Linked DNA regions of Homo sapiens: region 2 is linked to region 1. Evidence: fine-mapped expression QTL. Tissue or cell type: lymphoblastoid cells. Region 1 holds a variant in brackets; the other region holds the start of a gene. All regions are shown on one strand. Distances are from middle to middle.

Region 1 (2,681 bases):
GGCAATCACTTTTAGGAAGTTGTAGACTTTTCTGAAATTGGTAACATGTGTGGACTTTTTCCCTAAGAAAACTTAGGAGATGTATGCAATTTTAAGAGGTTCATACACCTTCTGAGAATCACTGTTTAAGAACTTCTGGTCTATTCAGAATGACACCTGATATATAGTAGATGCTATCATTTGTTGAATGAATGAACCAATTAATTCATCTCCTAAGTAAAGAAGGGAACCCACACTTGTTGAGGGCCTATATAGGACCATGAACTGGGGACACAAACTCAACCTCACGATAGCACTGATGAGGCATGTTCTACTAAGCTCATTTTACAGTGAGGAAAGAGAGGACCAGCCGGGCACGGTGGTTCACGGCTGTAATCCCAGCACTTTGGGAGGCCGAGGCGGGCGGATCACAAGGTCAGGATTTGGAGACCAACCTGGCCAAGATGGTGAAACCCCATCTCTACTAAAAATACAAAAATTAGCCGGGTGTGGTGGCGCGCGCCTGTACTCCCAGCTACCTGGGAGGCTGAGGCAGAAGAATCGCTTGAACCCGGGAGGCGGAGGTTGCAGTGAGCCGAGATCACGCCACTGCACTCCAGCCTGGGCGACAGAGTGAGACTCCGTCTAAAAAAAAAAAAAGAAAAGAAATCATATTCTCAACGTTGGAATCGGCCTCCCAGTTGCAAATCCCACCACAATACAACAGCAATTACAACTCTCAACTACAATTATGTTTGCATAGAGCTTCACGGTTTACAAAGCCCAGGTTACGTTTTGCAATTATCCTGTTTCACAGATTAAGAAGTTGAACTGAGGCCGGGCGCAGTGGCTCACGTCTATAATCCCAGCACTTTGGGAGGCGGGGGCGGGAGGATCACGAGGTCAGGAGTTCGAGACCAGCCTGGCCAACATGGTGAAACCCTGTCTCTACTAAAAATACAAAAATTAGCCGGGCGTGGTGGCGGACGCCTGTAATCCCAGCTACTCAGGAGGCTGAGGCAGGAGAATCGCTTGAATCCGGGAGGCGGAGGTTGCAGTGAACCGAGACTCCAGCCTGGGCAATAAGAGTGAAACTCCGTCTTAAAAAAATAAATAAGTTGAACTGAAAGCGTGGCCTAATAAGTGGCAAGGAGGAACACTTCCCCCAAATTTCTTCTTCTTAGTGCTTTGCCAGATCAGATCTGGGAGATTTCCCCCTCCCGCCGGCTTGCTGGATGACAGCGATCCGGCCTGGACTCTGCCCTGGGGAAGGCAGGAAGAAGGTAGTGAAAATGATTAAGTCCTCTTATTGCAGGCGCCAAAATGGGGCAGAAACCCTGCAGGAAGGCCAGGCCTCTGAGCCCAGTTCCACCCCCGTTCCCCTCCTCGGATCTGCTCCGGTCCTCCCCATCC[G/A]GACCCCATCCCTTCGGACGACCTGGCCAGCTCCTTTCCTTTCCCCATCCCCACCCGGGGAGACCCCGCGCCCAGCAGCTCACCGCGCTCGGGCACTGCTCCCTCTGCCACGCCTGTCAAGGCTCGGCAAACATCCGGCTCCGCGGTGGAACGGGAACCGCCCCCTCCCGCTCTCTTCTATCCCCAACCATTTCCGCCACACCTCCAACCCACTTCCGGCCCCAAACATGGCCTTTCCAGGAGCCCCGCCCACTTCCTGCACATGCCCGCCTAAGTTCCTGCCTCGGGGAGGTAACAGCATAACTGTCCGACTCGTCGCTCCCAAAGAGATGGCTGGAACAATTAGTTCCGCTTTCCCAGCTAGTCGAATCACTGGTGCACCTCCGGAATCCGAGGTTCGCATTGCTCTCGGACAGAGTTCTGCCTCCCCAGTACTCCCAAACTCCCAGTCCTGTGCACCAATGAGGTCCAGCTCTGAGGCTTCTTTCCTGAGAAAAAAATTTGGAAGTCCGTGACTGTTTCCTGGAGGAGCTGAGAAGAGGAAGCTCACTTCCGGCGTAGGGAGGCTTTCTGACCCGGAATGGAGGAGGCGGAGGAGCTGCTCTTGGAGGGGAAGAAGGCGCTGCAACTCGGTGAGTGACCTGCGATGTCCGCGACCCTCAACCTTGGCCCAGGTGGATCTGACGCTCTGTGGTCAGCTTTCTCCTCAGTCTTCTCTCCTCCGGATCCCAGGATCCTCCAGTGCCCTCAGAGTCGCTGGGGGCTTCTGAAGAGCCCTTGAGCCTCCTCAAAACTTTCAGGGCCCTCCTTAGAGCCCTCACCTGTCCCTCGGGCTCCGCAGGCCCACCTGGACCTGCGGTTTCCTCCCACACTTTTCCCCACCTCCCACCTTCTTGGGTGGCTCCCTCACTGTCTTCCCTTCTCTCTGCAGCCCGCGAGCCGCGCCTGGGCCTGGACTTAGGATGGAACCCTTCCGGAGAAGGCTGTACGCAGGGCCTCAAAGACGTCCCACCCGAGCCGACCCGAGACATCCTCGCTTTAAAGAGCCTTCCCCGGGGCTTGGCCCTTGGCCCCTCACTCGCCAAGGAACAGCGCTTGGGGGTCTGGTGTGTCGGGGACCCCCTGCAGCCCGGCCTGCTGTGGGGGCCGCTGGAAGAGGAGTCTGCCTCCAAGGAGAAGGGCGAGGGAGTAAAGCCACGGCAGGAGGAGGTATTGAAGGATAGAGCGACTTCCCTCCGCCCTTGAAAATGTAGGGGAGGTTTGGACATTGCTAGACAGCTTTTCAATTT
Region 2 (2,681 bases), 83 kb before region 1:
CCAGCTTAAAACGGTCCAATGTCCGGTGACCACGGCCATATAGCAAGAGGTCACAGTCAAGCACTGTTATTGGTATAGCCATGGTAAATGTGAATGTTGGCTCTCCTCTTTGCTTTTTCTGAACTGTTCCCAATGAAGATGTTGGTGCAAGAACGTATTTTTAAGAAAGTATCAGAATCCAACAGCTAACCACAGTTAAATGGCTCTGCCATTTATAATCTTCTCTCTGTAAATGTTAAAAGAAAAAACATTAGGAACCTACCAAAGACTTTAAAGTGACTCAAAGGCTGGAGCAGCTCCTTTTCTACAAATTTCCATTTTGTTGAGGCAAAACGTACTGTACTTACAACTCCGGATTTTTCTCCACTAACTCATGGCTGCACGACAGGCTTGCTCTGATTCAAGGATAATGGGAATTCAATCTTTGTGGCTCATTTAATGCTTGGCATTTCAATTGAGAACACCAAAAGAATAATGGAGGTGATGACATAATTATTCACAAGGTAAAAGAGGTCGGCTTCTAACTATATAGGCCAAGAAGCAGCTGACATATGTCATAACCACCTTGGGTAAGAATTGGTCACGGGTTTCATTATCCAAAGACTTCTGGTTTCACCTGACAAATACAGGACAGATGCTGGGGTGTTCAAACCAGTCTAACAAGAAAAGAAGGGGCAAAAAAAAAAAAAAAAAAAAAAAAAAAAAAACAACCAAAGTCCACAACCCAGCCTTATGGACGTACACTGTGTGCTGTAACAAAAGGCTTTTCCCTCACTCCAAGAACTCCAAATCGTGAACCTGAGGGCCAGGAAGTACGGAAGACCAGACACATTGGAAGTCGGGAGCGAAAAAGAGGCTGGCCGAACCAGGTTTGGGAAGCGACTCTGCCACTTTTAAAGGGCACCCTAAAAACGGATGTCAAAGTCTGATTGCGCCGGCCACTCAGTTAGCCCAGGCCCGTCACCCACCTCTCCGCGGCTGCCAGGTTACCAGCCACACTTCCCACCCACCCAGCCGGGTTGGGCCCTCCTCCGGAACCGGCGACTGCACAGAGGCCGCCACGGCGCGCAACAGCGGCACCGCCCCTTCCGCGTCAGCGCCCGCCCCGCGCCGCGCCCTCACTGCCGCTGCCGCGGCTACCTGCGGTTCATCTCCGCACATTCCACACGCGGCCCAAACGGTCTCTCTCTCTCTCTCTCAAACACCGCCTTTCCGTCTTTGTTTTATCTTGAGTAGCTTAGAAAGATTGGAGAAGAAAGCTTACGTGGAATGAAAATCAACTTTTATGGATATTTTGAGGACTAAAAGAATAAATAGGGCGTCCGTACTGTAGCGAAAGTGCGACTAAGGTTAGGCATCTGGATTTCCCCCGTAGCCCTCTTTCACCCCCCCCCCCCGGCCATTACCGAAGCGGATGAAAACAAACACTAACGATGGCGGCGCCGGGAAGCGACCGGCTGCTGGGCTTAAGGCGGGAGTGACCGCTTAACCAGTGAGGGAAGCACTGAAGAGCGCCAGTCGACGTGGGTGCGACAACTCGCGGAGTCTTAGGAGCAAAACGTCTGGGGCCTGCGAGCCAGGACCCTTCTGAAGCCTTAGGTGTCTATCGGCGACGTGTACGGTCACTGCAGCTCCGGAGCGCGGAACCCTCAGCCAGGAGGCGCGGCTGGTCGGTCCCAGGTCCCGGCCTCCGTAATGAGAGCCCGGAACCACTCTTTGTGCCGCAGCTTCGCAGGTACTAACTTTTGCGGGGGATACCCCAAGATCTCTCAGCGCCCCCGGGTGGGAGGCTGTGGATCTGCGGCCCCTTGGCTGCTGCTTCGTGGAAGTAGAAGGGATTAGCCACGGTTCAATCCCCTGGGCCCCTGAGTTTTCTGTGGGAAGTTGAGTTGGTCTAGGCCCCGTTGGCCCCTGCTTGTTTGGCAGAGAATCCCCTCCACCCCAGAGCTTTCCTCTCCACTTTTTCAGCTCCTTGGGTTAGGTCGTCAGGCGTTTTGGAGGTAATTTGGGGGGCCATAACTCCGGGGTTGGGTGCCAATATGAGTGAGGTAGGTTTTCATTCAATCAAGATTTGCTGAGTGCCAAATATGTACTCCGCGTGTAGGTGAGGGTGACTGTTGACTAGTGAAAAAAGGGACCCATGGTTCACGACTGTCTTCTTACTGGCAGTGGAACGACCTGTGGAAACCTGTGATCCATTCTCATTAAATAAATCTCTGGGTAAGTGGCTAAGCACCTTCTTGAGCTCATCACTAATTCTTCCCAGTTTTCACTTTTCCAGTGAGTTCCCAGTTAGCCTGGTCAATTCAGCGTAGCATTTCACTTTTGGTATTTCTTCGTTCTCTGGCCACCCCGCAGCCAAAAAGAAAAAAGAGATTTTAAAAAATTACCTATTTTCTCATTACACTTAGTTTAAAACTCATCTCCTAAGGTGATAGAATTTATTGGACACCTTTAGTGGGAGATGTATTATAATAAGAAACAACAAGCTCTTCCTTTACACTAAATTAGCTTCCAGATTTTGTGTGTTGTTTTATGACTGTTAGTCCTTTTCATGTGTGCATGTAGTGGCTCCAGCTCAATTATGAGGTTTTTTTTTTGTTGTTTTCAACTCTCCATTTATCAGCTCAGGAGAAGTCTTTTAGTTTTTTAGATTTTAAAATTTTTATTATTATTATTAG

Direction of the effects. Alleles are on the strand shown, and positions count from the first base shown. SD is a standard deviation of normalised expression in the study named.
As copies of G replace A in region 1, the expression in lymphoblastoid cells of the gene that starts at base 1,398 in region 2 goes up (moderate effect, 0.65 SD a copy in GTEx).

The links. PIP is the estimated chance that this variant, and not a neighbour inherited with it, causes the effect.
Region 2: ATG13 starts here. The variant in region 1 is fine-mapped to the expression of ATG13 in lymphoblastoid cells (GTEx, PIP 0.96).

Annotation. Positions count from the first base shown.
Region 1 is chr11:46,699,076-46,701,756 of GRCh38, forward strand. ARHGAP1 (Rho GTPase activating protein 1) reads right to left here and starts at 1,544. Exons shown (of 13, transcript NM_004308.5): 1 at 1,476-1,544. ZNF408 (zinc finger protein 408) reads left to right here and starts at 1,956. Exons shown (of 5, transcript NM_024741.3): 1 at 1,956-2,024; 2 at 2,324-2,601. The coding sequence starts at 1,973. RefSeq lists a silencer at 1,300-1,419 and an enhancer at 1,750-2,039. The variant G/A (reference allele first, on the strand shown) is at 1,393.
Region 2 is chr11:46,616,156-46,618,836 of GRCh38, forward strand. ATG13 (autophagy related 13) reads left to right here and starts at 1,398. Exons shown (of 19, transcript NM_001346311.2): 1 at 1,398-1,735. HARBI1 (harbinger transposase derived 1) reads right to left here and starts at 1,072. Exons shown (of 3, transcript NM_173811.4): 1 at 969-1,072; 2 at 1-226. The coding sequence starts at 82. RefSeq lists an enhancer at 1,205-1,384 and a silencer at 1,364-1,658.